Homo sapiens: one gene and its partner. The protein of the gene in region 2 interacts with the protein of the main gene of each other region in a pairwise test. Each region holds a gene or a part of one and is shown on either strand. Other genes may lie near its edges.

Region 1 (7,991 bases), on a different chromosome or scaffold from region 2:
AGAATTACATCAAACTGTAAATCTTCTGTACAGCAAAGAAAACAATCAACAGAGTGAAGAGAAAAGCTAGCAAGTTGGAGAAAATATATGCAAACCATGCATCTGTTAGGGCGTTAATATCCAAAATATATAAGGAATTCAAACAATTCAGTAGCAATAAAACAACCCAATTTAAAAATGGGCAGAGGACCTGAATAAACATTTATCAAAGAAGAGCTACAAATGGCCAAGTAGATGAAAAAAAGTTCAACATCATTAATCATCAGGGAAATGCAAGTTAAAACCACGATGAGATATCACCCCACACCTGTAAAGATGGCTATTATAAAAAAGATGAAAAATAACAAGTGTTGGCAATGATGTGGAGAAAAAGGAACCTTTGTTGATGGGAATGTAAATTAGTACAGGCATTACGAAAACCAGTACAGAGGTCCTCAAAAAATTAAAAATAGGACTATTTTTAGCAATCTCACTACTGAGTATATGTCCAACAAAAATGAATCAGTATGTTGAAGAGATATCTGTGCTCCCATGTTCACTGCAGCACTATTCACAATTGTTGAGATAAAGAATCATCCTTAGTGTCCATTCATGAATGAATGGTTACTTTAATTTCCTACCATTGCCCTATTCCCTCCATATAGCCTTTGTTTCAGCCTTACTGAGCAATTTATAATTCTCAAACACATCATATTTCTTATTCTACTTAGACTACTTCCCTTCCCTAACACTTCCATCCCTAACCTTTGTTCTCTTAGCTAACTCACACTGACTCAGCCTCCCAAGTGGCTGGGATTACAGGCACCCACCACCATGCCTGGCTAATTTTTGTATTTTTAGCAGAGACGGGGTTTCACCATGTTGGCCACGCTGATCAAGAACTCCTGACCTCAAGTGATCCGCCCATCTCCGCCTCCCAAAGTGCTGGAATTACAGGCATGAGCCATGGCACCCAGCCCACACTGAAAACTTAATGCTAAAGTAATCTGTTTTGGAAAGCCTTCTCTGATCACCTCTTGGTATTTTGTCATTCTTTCACTATTGCCACAGTAAGTGTATATGTGCCTATTATCATCTTTATCACTTTTATATTCTAACACCAATTATAATACCATGCTGACATGCACAATTCTATACAGCATGGTAATAGCATGCATCAGTAAAGGTGCAGTGTGACTGATACCTCTACAAAACACAGAGCTGGGCAGTGCACCAATTTAATGGAGTCTGAAGGAATTTAAGTTCTAGAAAACTAAGGTGCTACCCAAGGTCATTCACCTAATCAATGGCACTTAGGGCACCAAAGTGCAGGCTGCTTGCAGTCATTCATTCATGCATTCAATCTGTAACAAGCAGACTGATGTAGAAATTTACTGGTGCTAAATTTTTGTTCTGGAGACGCAAAGAGGAAAAAAAGAACATTTTCCTCTTCCCTGAAGCGTAATTAGACTTTCTGAATTTCCAAGAAAAAGTCAAAAGACGGCCCCATCCACCTTTTCTTGTGATTAGGGCCTTGGTGCCTGGATACCTGAAAAGAAAAAAGCAAGATGAATTCCTCTGCTTTTGGATAACTAAAGGAGGCTTAAAGATACCCCAAAAGCAGAAGTAATTAGGGGGTTTAAAAAGGGAAGAAAGGGAAGACTTTTATTGCAGCTAGATCCCCATTGTGGGCTGGAAAAGGACAAGGGCTCCTAGTTTCACAAGAGTAGTGTCATGAACTTGTTAGGACATAAGAAGTGGCAGGACTAAAACCATGTCTTGAAATAAAATTACTAAGGGAACGAGAAGATAGAGAAGTCCAAGAACCAAACTCTGGGTATGCCAATGGCTGGAGAAGTGGTGGATGAGCCAATGGAGCTGCCAGTGAGATGGACGAACCAAGAGACAGGGGCCACCTGAAGGCCAACAGAAGAAGATGAATGCTTCAAGATGGCAGCTGTAAGCAAATGCTTCTAATGCTGCTGATAGTTCAGGTGAGATAATGGAAAAGTAACCACTGATTTAGCAATTCTGAGGTCATTGGTGACTTTGCCAAGAGGAGTTTCAATGGAGGGGTAGGGGCAAAAGCCTGGCTGAAATAGATTCAAGAATGAATAGGAGGGCCAAGCATGATAGCTCACATCTATAATCTCGGCACTTTAGGAGGCTGAGGTGGATAGATCACCTGAGGTCAGGAGCTCTAGACCATTCTGGCCAACATGGCGAAACCCCATCTCTATTAAAAATTCAAAAATTAGCTGGGCATGGTGGCACACACCTGCCGTTCCAACTACTTGGGAGGCTTAGGCATGAGAATCACCTGAACCCGGGAGGTGGAGGTTGCAGTGAGCTGAGATTGCGCCACTGCACTCCAACCTGGGCAACAGAGCAAGATTCTATCTCAAAAAAAAAAAAAAAAAAGAGGATGAATAGGAGGAGGGGATGAGGATACAGTTAGTATAAGTGACTCTTTTAAGACATTTTGGAAGAGACCAGAGAACACATTGGTAGCTGATAGGGGACATATAATCAAGGAACTTTTTAAAAGATAGGCAAATGTTGCGCAATGTTAATATGCTTATGGGAATGATCCAAAAATTAATGATACAAAAATTAATAATGTAGGATTGAGAGGTGACAACTACCTGAGTGAAAACCTTGAGACTGTAAGGAAGACAGGATCTAATACAAAGGTGGAAGAGTTGAACTTAAATAAGAGCATGCACAGCTCATTCCCAGTAATGGGAAGGAATAGAGTGCACAGGTACAGATGTAGGTAAACTTGGGAGATGTGGTGATGGGAACTTTAACTCCTGAAATACTAACCTATACTCTCTCAGAGTCTAAATTTTTAGTCTACTGAATTCAGCAATACAGTGAAGTTTAGTAGACCAAATTATCCAAAAGTGTTGAAGGAAACTTATATGTGATGGAGACATTTTTACTTCTTACTTTTAATTTTGACCGCCCTGGGAAAAACTGTTGGACCCATATAAAATTAAAATCTTTAGTGAAACACATTCTTTTATAGGTATATTTTAAAGTTTTAACTTCTGAGATAATATCACAGTTTTCAAAACACTAAGACATGTTTTTATTGTTAGCTAATTGTCAGGCTTCAGCTGAAGCACACCGTAAGGCCTGCATGAACTTCAGCTGTCCATAATGCGTAAAAGACCAAGTGCGCAAGGCAAACAGATCTTGCCATGGTTGCTGATGAAAGAAACTTAATCTCTTGGGGCCTGAGTTGCCTTATCTGTAAAGTAAGGATAATCCTTGCCTTACAGGATTATTGTGAGCTCCAAATAAGATAAACCTCTTGGCACACAATAGGTGCTTAAAAAAAAAATGCCAGCTATCATCACTGAAGTGAGCTTTTTCTGAGAGCAAACCTGTTTAACTCATAAATTTCTTTCATTGATAAGATGTAACCAGTGGAGAAACTTGGGGCAGGCACACGATGCCTCTCTGCACTATCGCTGCAACTTCCTGTTAATGTATACTTACTTTTTCTTCCATTTAGAGCTCTACAAGAAATACCTGTGTACCATTTTGCGTGCCTCCTTCTGAGGCTCAGTGGGCTATGCTCAGAGAATAGAGATAAATGTCTGCCCTATGTAGCAGAAAGGCAGTTATACATTTTAGAATGATGTTTTTCCGAAGAAATGACAAAAGCCAGACGAAACAGACTGACACGGTCACTGTGGTTTGGAATGTTAGTTTTTCTCTTTGGCTTTACTACTTTTGGCTCTACACTGTAGAGGAACCAGTGTCCTCATGAAACAGCCAGTATAAAAGCAAGTAGCTTACTTCACAGGAATAGCTAATAACATTTAATTGTTGAGCATTTAACCAAAACCCACTCAGGTCAATTTAAGTGTAGTGCAGTGGAAGAAATTATTGCACACTGCAAAGTTGTGGTGCATTTTACTTAAATCTACAAAGGCCAACAGAAGTGCAGTGTAATATAATAAATTACTGCAAAATATAATCATAAGGGGAGAAGGTGGCTGTTTTCGAAGCCCTTGGCCCCAAGGTAACTGAGGTCATCCCCCTGAACCCCCCAGCACACATCCTCATTATTTCAGCATTTGTACTACAGGGGGCTACAAGACTTCCGCCCCACAGCAATGGGGTGAAAACGTGAAGTGATCGGAGCCCCCAGATAGAGGGGCCAGCAATAGAAGAAAAGCTGGGGCAGGCTGGAGGAGAGGGGCTGTGGAAAAGGTTGCTCTCAGCATCATACACGCCTTATCCTTCTAGGTCGGGTATCCACAAATTCCCAAAATTTGCGAGAACATAACCCTGGAGAAGGTGGGGGTGACCCACGGAGGAACTCCCTGGAAAAGCGGAGGCGGCCCCAATGGGAGACTCCCGGGGGTCAACTCCGAGGGGAGGGGGCGTCTGCGAGAAAGGGGAGGGGCGGCGGTGGGCAGCCTAGGGAGGAGAGGAGGGGCGAGACGCCGTCGCCAGCCCCCTCCTCTTGTCTGCGCTCCCTTCGTTTCCGTCTCGGCCGGGCACCCGAGCGCATCCCGCCGAGGCCGGGCCGTTTCAGGGGGAGGCGCCAACTCATCGCGGCGCCGGGCCCCTGACCGTGCAGTAACCGCTACCCAGGAGGCGGAGCGGACAAGGCTCCGGCCTGCGAGGAGGTAAGAGGGTGGAGGAGTGGTGTGGGAGGCCGAGGGGGATCGCGGCCGTGACGTGGGATGCTGTCAGGTACCACTGGGGCAGGCCACCCCTCCCCGCCCCTGCGGCCCGACCTCCCCGCCAGAGACAGCTGAGGGGCCCAGGGGACTAGAGCCGCGACCGTGCCACAGGCCTAGGCGTCGTCGCGCATGCGTAAAACTGCTGGCGGGAGTTAAGAGCTAGGTTCCGGGGCTACACCCAGCCCAGGCCGCAGGCAGAGGCGGCCCTGCGCATGCGCAATTCCGCTGGCGTGGGCCCGGTGCGCTGCTCGCGACTACATCCTGCCCAGGCCGCCGGCCCAGGCTGCGCTGCGCATGCGCGAGTCCTCTGGTAGGGGTCGCGTTTGGCGTCGTTCCAGGGTGATCATCTGCTCGGAGGCCGCTCTCATCCTAAGCTCCCACGTCTGGTGTGGCTGGGGGGGCGTCACAGGTCCCGAGGGAGCGTCCTGCCTGAAGTTTCTCCCTCCTAACCCACTCGCTGCACTGCATATGTTGCCGATGTTTTCATTTCTGTGGCCTCGACCCCTAGGCTCCCGTCCCATAAATCTAGTACCCCAGGTCCCGGGCACCGGCCCGGCTCACTAACTCAGTGGCAGTATATGCTTTCGACATTTGGTCCTGATGTCCAGGAATAGCGCGAAAAGTTTGACTTTGTTAGGCGAAGCCGTTTTGGAACTGCGGAGGGATGGGAAGAAATCGCCGAGCGTCTTAAGCCGCAACATAGTGCTCTGCTCAGCCCTGGAAATAGAGGTTTTCAGACATTGAAAACTTTCCAAGTGCTCCGTCTTGGCGGAGAAAGAACTGAGTTGGAAGGCTAATTTAGAATGAACTTTTTGCTTTTGTTCTTTGCAAAAATTACATAAAATGTTGCAACAGTTCGAGACCAGGACTATAACAAAACGCATTTCATGGAGCTACTTTGTACCGCGCTTGGCGACTTACCTTGTCAGAGCTGAATAAAAGTGGTTGAGTTCACAAACAGTGCTCTGGATCGTTGCTCTTTCCCCCAGACACTGTTTAACGTTTATTGAGCCTCCTGGCTTTGCACCTTCCTAGTATTGCGTTCCTGCTGGGTTTTACACCTTACTAGACAGTGGGTCTTAGTTAAGTCAGTTTCGTGACTCCTGGGGCTACTGTGAAGAGTTTCTAACAATGTCATTACTCTGTGCTTTGTAATCTTATATGATGTGCTGATACAGATATTTGGGGGCTGGAATAGAAGAGCCACTTAGGCTCAGAGAATGAGTATTCTAGGTGAAACGTAATCTCTTTATTTCCTGCTAGACAGTACATGCGTGTTATTAAGCAGCAGGTAAAAGCAACAAGAATGATACGTTCTTGCATACCCCACTTCCACCACTCAGGCCTTATTGCTCTTGCTGGGCTCGCCAAGCGGACCCTCATCCCAGGGCGTCTGCGTTTGGTATTTCCAGTATGCTCAATGCTCACTTTCCCACTCTTCGCAAATCTGCATGGCACAGAACTTTATTTAAGTCTTGAAACAATTGCCATCATTTCAGAGAGGTGACTACCTCACCTAAAATGTCTGGCTCTCCAAACTCTTGTACTGCTGGTTCGGCTTTGTAGCACTTAATCACCATCTGATATTATATATTTGTAAGGGTATGATCAATCTATCTCCACCATAATTGAAGCTCAGAAGGTATTTGTTAATTGTAGAAATAAAATTGGAAACTAACTTACTCCAGAGATATTTTTTTACTGAACTCAACCTAGATTCATTCATTTATTCAACAAAAATTGATTTTCTATCACGTCCTGTCCTTGATGCTTGGGATGCATCAATGAACAAAAGAGACAAAGATCCCTTCCCTCTGGAGCTTACATTCTAGCAAAGAATGATAAAAAACATATTTGTATATTAGGTTAGAAAAGTACAAATGCTATGAAAAAATGAAAAAGGAGAACAGAGAAAGGGAATTGGGAGTGCAGGTGTGGGTTGCAATTTTAAACATCATGGGTACGGTGAGTCTGAAGGATAAACCAAAGGTGATGTTTAACATGGGGAACTGGGTTTTAGAAATAAATGTTCTTCTGGGAGAAAACGTTCTTTATCGTGCTCTACAATGTCTTTTATGGGAGCCCACGGCATGACCCTTGTGATAAACGTCACCATTTTTTATAGTATATAGGTGAAAAAACATTTTTTTCCTAAATAAGAGTTCAAATTATTCAGGAGTTTACAGTTTAACTTAGCACATCAAATGAAGACACTGGACTTTTACAAGGAAGAGCTAGCCAGACATCTATGTAAATTGTGCTGAGAAAAACTGTACGTTGTCTCCACAGTTTTTGCAATTGCTTCTAAATGTCCCTCTGACTGTGGATGACTAGTGAAGATCTTTTCTAAGAATGGTCATTGCTTTTCTGTATTTGAAACTGTGTAGGAGAGGAGCTTAAATCACCTGGTGTGATGTTATGCTATAAATGACCTCTCTTACAGGTATCTGAATGAACCAGATAGACCTAACTAAATTTCAATCCATAATTAAAGAAGGCTTAGAGAAAGAGGGTGATGGAGAGGAATAATTTTAGAAAGTAAAGTGTGTTTCCCCTCATGTCCTTTACTTACATAGATTACAAATACTCTGTTCAAACACCAAAATATTATTAATCTAGGACCATAAATGTAAGGAGTCCATGGAATTTGCTTATGCCCTATGAAATTGTCATATTCAAGTTTGGTTTTATCAGTTGGTTAAAGTAAAATTTAAATGCCCCAAGATACTGCTACTGTTGAGGTTTACTTGGATTTAAATTACTACAAATCAGGCCGGGCGCGGTGGCTCACCTGTAATCCCAGCGCTTTGGGGGAGACCAAGGCAGTCAAATGTTCTTGAGCCCAGGAGTTAGAGACCAGCCGGGACAACATGGCAAAACTCTGTCTCTACAGAAAAACGAACAAAAAAAAAATGAGCCAGGCATGGTGGCACACACCTGTAGTTTCAGATACTTGGGAGGCTGTAGTGTGAGGATCACTGGAGCCGGGAAGGTTGAGGCTGCAGTGAGTCATGATCACACCATTGCACTCCAGTCTGGGCAATAGTGTAAGACCCCATCTCATAAATAAATAAATAAATATTGCTACAGATTAAAATTGTCCAGGAAAAGGTAGATTGGAGACCAGGAATTATTGGGGTTACAGAGTGACATTAAGGACTCTTGTTAAAGACTAAAAGAGAGTTCTACTTGGAGATTTTACTTCAAAGGAGTGGATGGCTTGCCTCCTGGTAAGGGATATTGATAATGTCCATCAATGGAAGGCTGAGATGATACTTCCAGCTTTCATTGTCTGGAAGGAACATG
Region 2 (7,795 bases):
CCAAAGATTTATGTATTACTACTTGAAAGATCCAAGTCCACAGTTTTGGTAACTAGTTTTTCTTTTCTCTTTTTTTTTTTTTTTTTTGGTTTACCATGTTCTTGTAAGAAAATACTAAGGAAATAATAAAATATAACTCTGAAATTTTAATGTAAACTTTCAAACTTGAAAAAAAAAGCTAATGGTCAGGTGCAGTGGTTCACACCTATAATCCCAACACTTTGGGAGGCTGAGGTGGACAGATCATTTGAGGTCAGGAGTTCGAGACCAGCCTGCCCAAATGCTGAAACCCCGTCTCTGCTAAAAATACAAAAAAAATTAGCCAGGCGTGATGGCGCATGCCTGTAATCCCAGCTACTTGGGAGGCTGACACAGGAGAATCACTTGAACCCAGGAGGCAGAGGTTGCAGTGAGCCAACATCACGCCACAGCACTCTGGCCTGGGCAACAGAGCGAGACTCCATCTCAAAAAAAAAAGCAAAAAAACTCTTGCAACATTCTAAAATTCACATTTATTCATTCTTTCCAAAAAGGGGATTCCTGAGACAAGTCATAGGCATACCCAGAACAAAAGTAGCAATATGACATTTTTAAACATTAGGACCTCAAATAGATGCTGTAAAGTTTTATACCTATGCCTCAAGTATAGTACCCACAAATTCTGCCTGAAAATATTTGTAGACATATAGAAGGGAAAAATCAAGTTGGTGCAAAGTTGAAAATTAAATTTTACCATGCCCAGGTGCTTTCCTAATCCTTACTAGAATTTTCTATGGCTTACCCCATCCGGGAGGTGAGGGGCGCCTCTGCCCGGCCGCCCCTACTGGGAAGTGAGGAGCCCCTCTGTCCGGCCACCACCCCGTCTGGGAGGTGTACCCAACAGCTCATTGAGAACGGGCCATGATGACAATGGCAGTTTTGTGGAATAGAAAGGGGGGAAAGGTGGGGAAAAGATTGAGAAATCGGATGGTTGCCGTGTCTGTGTAGAAAGAGGTAGACATGGGAGACTTTTCATTTTGTTCTGTACTAAGAAAAATTCTTCTGCCTTGGGATCCTGTTGATCTGTGACCTTACCCCCAACCCTGTGCTCTCTGAAACATGTGCTGTGTCCACTCAGGGTTAAATGGATTAAGGGCGGTGCAAGATGTGCTTTGTTAAACAGATGCTTGAAGGCAGCATGCTCGTTAAGAGTCATCACCACTCCCTAATCTCAAGTACCCAGGGACGCAAACACTGCGGAAGGCCGCAGGGTCCTCTGCCTAGGAAAACCAGAGACCGTTGTTCACTTGTTTATCTGCTGACCTTCCCTCCACTATTGTCCTGTGACCCTGCCAAATCCCCCTCTGCGAGAAACACCCAAGAATGATCAATAAATAAATAAATAAATAAATAAATAAATAAATAAATAAAAATGACAAATTCACAGAATTGAAAAAAAAAAAAAAAAAAGAATTTTCTATGGCTTTTGGTTCACACCCTCCTCCCCAAGCTGCTTGCCTTATTCTTTCTTAGGTATATAGGCATCTTTGGTTCCTCCACTATGATATTCTTGTTCTCTACCACAAAAATGGTAATATCAAAACCCAACAAGATGAGGCTATTTAAAAACAAGTTTAAAACTTACTTGGGTCGGGCATGTTTTTAGCCAAACACTGGAAACCAGGTATCTATGATATGAGGGGGGAGAAAAAGCTATAATAAAGAGCTTAATTACAACTAATACTTTGCTAATAAGAAATGAGGCACCTGATATGATCGTTACCAATTCAGTATTAACTTGTGTTATGAAATGAAGTAGGTTAAGTGACCATCTTTTCGCATGAACTCCATCTGTAGTTCTGTATCTAGGCAGCTCTGCTGATCTCTATAGAGAGACCTATATCTGCATTTGTACACCCATATTTGCCTCTACAGGCCTGCATCTATAGAGAGGCATGAACAAATGTGTTCTAGACAGACTGACCTGGAGCCAAATAGACTGTGTTCCAGGGAGTAGGTAAAACGTGGCACAGGAACGTGATACAGAAATTTGGAGACAGCATACTCTCAGAAGCTCCAGCCCTGACCTTTGGGGTTGTAACTCTGACCAGGGTTTTCAGCCACAGCGCTGCAATCTATTCTGGAGACCCGCTCTAGAGGACAGCAACCCAGGGAGCCGACTTACCGCCTGGTTACAGAAGAGGGTTAAAAAATAAAAATCAAACGGCACAGGTCAGCCTACAGTAAGATGCCACTTTTATAAAGCTCACCAAGAAGCCAAATAGAACAGTCTGTTGTTTAAAAGGTATATTCATAGGTTGAAAAGTACTTCAATTTTAAAAAGAGAAGCAGATGAAAAAATTCAGGATGGCACGGGACTGAGATGGGTAGACATAAGGGTCGTTTGGAAGATGATGTATAGGCAATGTCCCAGGTTTTAGTTTGGTAATTCATTACATTATGCCTCATAATGTAGACGCATGTTACGTATATCCTTTGTATATATTAAGTATAGCATATTTAATTTTTTAAAAGCTGAAGCGGGAAGCAGTGAACATGTAAAATTATCTGGGAAGTCCCAAATCTGAACCAGCAGCAGATACGGGGGGCGGGGCTCAGGGGCTCAGCCTCGGTAGTTCAAAGGGGTTCCTTTAACTCTAAAGGCTGAGCCCTCAGAGAAGTCTTCCAGGCAGTTTTACCAGTCAAAATTCGACCACTAGCTCAGACTTTAAGAGAAGGCAGCGGGGGAGAGGCAGGAAAACACACAGGGCTTTGCTAGAGGGGATTAGACGCCTATTCAAACTTCAGCCCTCAGTCCTCTCCCGCCGTCCCTCCCTCCAGGCTGACTTCACGGAGCAGCGGCGTTGGGCGCTTACCTTCTCCAGCTCCTTTTTCACCCAGCCATACCAGCCGTGGGTGGTCACATCCCCGCCTCCGTTCCCGGGAACAATCACTGCCTTGCTAGGAGAAGCCATGAGTGCAGCGAGGCCAGAGTTCCCCAGCGCGGGTCCAGCGGAGCTGAGCCCAGCCTGCTCCCGCAGGGAGCCTGCGCCGCGGCATCCTGGGAGTTGTAGTTGCGGGGACCTGGGAGGCCGGGCTCTTTCCTCCTTGGCCTGCCTTCCGCTGGCTGCGTGGGGCAGCCAAGAACAAAGCCTGCGAGCTTCCATCAATTGTAAAGCAAAGCACCCTTTACTTGCCTCTTACTAGTGCTCTCATGTTTTTCCCTTATTTAAGACAGGCTATGACACGGTTGGGGTGTGTTATTTCTTTGCTAGATTTACTGATATTTCTATAGGAAAGTTTGTTTTTGGTTTCAAACATGCAGAAAACCCATTTATAACCTGGGAACGCCTGAAATCCATATTATTTTTCCTTCTGAGTTTAAAACAGTTTTTAGTAGTCAGTATCAGCCCTGGTTGTTGTTTTTCATTGCTTTGAATGAAATTTCCTTGCATAAAGCTACTAACCCAAGTAAAACAAGCAAAAATTTAATTAAATACCAAGAAAATACTTCGTCAGATTTTCATATTAAACCAGCTGATACTGAAATTGTTTAAAATAGTTTATAACCAATGCTTAGTCCCATATTCCTGGGAAGACAAACAAAGCTTCATGTACATTTGGTCACCGGGTGGGCCATTTAAACATTTTGTAAGGGGATTTCATTCAATTGTTATTTGAATTCCAATTTGTCATTCTGGTTGTATAAAAGCTTTCCCATGCAAGAGGGCTGATGTTATAACAGTAGATTATTATGCTACAGTGTATTTTCCCCCGGTAAAGAAAGCTTTTTATGGTTTGAATTTTCTGGAAACATTGGAGAAGACTGTCCTTGTCATCCACACTACAACAAAACTTCAGGACCTTGGGCTTTGGGTTCATGGTCTCGCAAATGAGAACGGTCCCTCCACACTTTTGGAACAGTGCACCCATTGGAACTTTTGAGGTAAAGCTACCCTGGGAAATTTCTCCCAAGAAGAAAATGGCATCCTTGATGTGAACAGCTTTTCCCAAGTTCACAGATTAAGACTTCTACTACCATGAAACTCTTATCTTTCAATATTTTTTGTCTTCCTTATGCCTCTACAAACAATAGAAGTGGAAAAGGGGTCTGTTATGTGCACTTATGGGGTATACTTTTATTTGTGAAGGAGTTTGCAGCCAGCCTTATACATGGATAAACTTAGACTTTGATAGATAAAAGATGAAGGCCCGAAGTAGGTAAGAAACTTTAATGGTACATGCATTGCTTCATAATCAGTCAAAAACAAAACATTGGTTCACTCCTCTAACCCACATCATGGGTTAAAGAAAACATTGCCAGTAGGCCTTCACTCTTCTAGAAAGGCATCATTTGTTAGGTCCTTTTACCATGGTTTGAAGTAAAAGAAGCAATGATTAGAAATGTATCCCTCATTGGCTGGGCGCGGTGGCTTACACCTGTAATCCCAGCACTTTAGGAGTCCGAGGCAGGCAGATCACCTGAGGTCAGGAGTTCAAGATCAGCCTGGCCAACATGGCAAAACCCCATCTCTACTAAAAATACAAAAATTAGCTAGGCGTGGTGGCAGGTGCCTGTAATCGCAGCTACTCAGGAAGCTGAGGCAAGAGAATTGCTTGAACCCGGAAGGCAGAGGTTGCAGTGAACCAAGACTGTGCCACTGCACTCCAACCTGGGCGACAGAGCAAGACTCCGTCTAAAAAAAAAAAAAAAGGAAAAAAGAAAAAAATAAATTCAGTGGTAGAGGATTAACGAAGAAATTGCTTAGTCAAGTGAGTAAACCCTTTATCTAGCTCATTCTTTGATCTATTTGATTTTAGGAGGTTTGGTTTATCGGGGCCTTGGGTTTAGGAGCATACCCCGAACTCTTGGTGTTATCCTCCCAATATTTATAATAATAGTCTCCCTGGTGTGCTGTATTCTCTCAAAGGTTTTAAATGTTTGCACGCGGTCATCTCTAGAACGTCAGATGTTCTCTCTTCAACTGGAATGACAAAAGCTGAAAGAAATGTGCAACCATGAGAACACCAAAACCTATAAATGATGTGCTGAGACCGAAACCCAAAATGATGGTAACTGAGAGTGGCGCTAAGGCCCTAAGTTTTGGTCACACTCTCACCTAAGTGAGAACCTGACCAAAAAGGGGGAATTTTTTGCACAAAATTTTGCGAGGCCATTGTTTTGGACTAAGCTCATGCATTAGGCCCCAACAAACCAAACCAAACCAAAATGGAGTTGCTTGTGCTAAGACTTCAAGGAAACATAGATTCTAGAACAGACTAGGTTTTGTTTTTTTTTCTGCAAATCTCTATAACAAACATCTCTGACAGCGTAGGTATCCACCCCATGAAGTTCCCATTAAATCTTTTTTTTTTTTTTTTTTGAGACGGAGTCTCGCTGTCGCCCAGGCTGGAGTGCAGTGGCGCAATCTCGGCTCACTGCAGGCTCCGCCCCCTGGGGTTCACGCCATTCTCCTGCCTCAGCCTCCGGAGTAGCTGGGACTACAGGCGCCCGCCACCTCGCCCGGCTAATTTTTTGTATTTTTAGTAGAGACAGGGTTTCACCGTGTTAGCCAGGATGGTCTCGATCTCCTGACCTCGTGATCCGCCCGCCTCGGCCTCCCAAAGTGCTGGGATTACAGGCGTGAGCCACCGCGCCCGGCCATCCCATTAAATCTTTTAACCAAATTAATTTCCTCTCGTCTGGAGACCATCAAGCTTCAGATGATCATGCAACAAAGGTTCCAGCCAGTTCCAGGTGAAGACACCACCCCTAGCCATCAAGAAACTACCCTGCCTCCACTAGATAGAGCAGGGCGAGTTCCATGATCACCAGTAGGTAGGGACTACACCCCAAGCCAGCATGAAGCAGTTACAGAAAAAAGACCATCAGTCCCTCTGCCTCCCATAAAGATTTATGGGGATCACATCTCTCAGCGGGCAGATGAGCCAGGAAAATAGGGTCTGGAGGCAGGGAACAGAAGGCCGATTCACACTTCGGTAATGACAGGAAATATCCTCTTCACAGGGTGTAGGCCAACTAAATGACTTTGTAGCTTTACTTCATCCTCTTCATTTACATAGGGTGTACCCCAAGTAGAGGGTATTTAAATGCTCAAAAATTCTATAATGGGGATTTTGAGGCCTTATGCTCAGGCCTGCTCCCATAATGTAGAGTGTACTTTCATTTTCAATGAAACCCTTCTTTCCTTCCTTTCTTTGTGCGTTTCGTCTAATTGTTTGTTCAAGACGCTAAGAAACTGGACACCCTCCACCATTAACAAAGGGACATGAAACTTTTGGGGGTGATATATATGTTTATTATCTCGATTGTGGTGATGGGTGTCAAAACTTAATAAATTGTACATTTTAAATATGTGCAGCTTAAGGTACATCAATTATACCTCAATATAACTCTTTCAAATTTAAAAATAGTAATCCCAGCATTTTGGGAGGCTAAAGCGGGAGGATTGCTTGAGCCCAGGAGTTTGAGACTAGCCTGGGCAACATGGCAAGACTCCATGTCTTCAAAAATTTTTTAAATTAGCCAGGCACGGTGGTGTACACCTGTAGTCCCAGCTACTCAGCAGGCTAAGGTAGAATGATCACTTGAGCATGGGAGACTGCAGTGAGCTATGATCATGCCACTGCACTCTAGCGTGGGTGACACAGTGAGACTCTGTCTCAAAAAAAAAAAAAGGAATAAAATGTCAACATAAAACAAGCAGAGACATTCCTATAACCAACTGGTTGTTTGCTTAGTAGTTTTTAGTTCAAGAAGCAGTGATACTCCCTAAACAGGAACTGGGGGCTGAAAAAGGATCTAGCAATCTAGCTTCCCTTAAGATTTAGTTAGCTCATTCTTCTAGAAGGAGAAAAAAGGCAGTGACATTAACTCTCATCTTAGGTTGTTTATGCCAATAATAATTGAGAAGATTATAATTACATATATCCGTTTTGTTTTCTACTTTTTATCTCTTGTACAAACAATTTCTGAGCTTATCATTATCACAGAAGAAACAGTTTTAGTTTCAAAGCTAAAAGCCAACATTTTTGTCCATTTTATTTTTTGAGATGAAGTCTCGCTCAGTCACCCAGGCTGGAGTGCAGTGGCGCGATCTCGGCTCACCGCAAGCTCTGCCTCCCGGGTTCACGCCATTCTCCTGCCTCAGCCTCCCGAGTAGCTGGGACTACAGGCGCCCACCACCATGCCCAGCTAAATTTTTTTTTGTATTTTTTTTTTTAGTAGAGACAGAGTTTCACCATGTTAGCCTGGATGGTCTCGATCTCCTGACCTCGTGATCCACCCGTCTCAGCCTCCCAAAGTGCTGGGATTACAGGCATGAGCCACTGCTCCCGGCCATTTTTGTGAATTTTTAAAAATCTGAAAATGCACCTTTATATTTGGTACCTCATTTGCTAATATTGAAGAAGTTGTTCTCAAGAACTTGCTGAGACAGTTTGACTCTTTCTAAAGGGATCACCCACCCTCCACTGAGGCCCTCCTTCTAAAGGGATCACCCACCCTCCACTGAGGCCCTCCTTCTAAAGGGATCACCCACCCTCCACTGAGGCCCTCCTTCTAAAGGGATCTTCCACCCTCCACTGAGGCCCTCCTTCTAAAGGGATCTTCCACCCTCCACTGAGGCCCTCCTTCTAAAGGGATCACCCTCCCTCCACTGAGGCCCTCCTGCTGAATAATCTTCCTCTGCCTGGATTTTTCTTTTCAGGTCAGGATGTTTTCTGTGGGAAGTTTGTCTCTAAGTCTTCAAACTCACGGTCTAAATCTATTCTCCTCTCTTCTGTGGTTACTTTT

The links. The genes of interacting proteins can lie anywhere in the genome.
Region 1: the proteins of RBBP9 (region 2) and RCBTB2 interact in binary tests that used the Homo sapiens proteins (3 or more experiments, as listed by UniProt).

What each region holds. Positions count from the first base shown.
Region 1 is NC_000013.11:48,529,665-48,537,655, reverse strand, and holds the start of RCBTB2 (RCC1 and BTB domain-containing protein 2), read left to right. Parts: upstream 1-4,575; 5' UTR 4,576-4,628; intron 4,629-5,606; exon of another isoform or gene 5,607-7,991.
Region 2 is NC_000020.11:18,494,214-18,502,008, forward strand, and holds the start of RBBP9 (serine hydrolase RBBP9), read right to left. Parts: upstream 3,013-7,795; 5' UTR 2,955-3,012; coding exon 2,856-2,954; intron 1,668-2,855; coding exon 1,625-1,667; intron 1-1,624.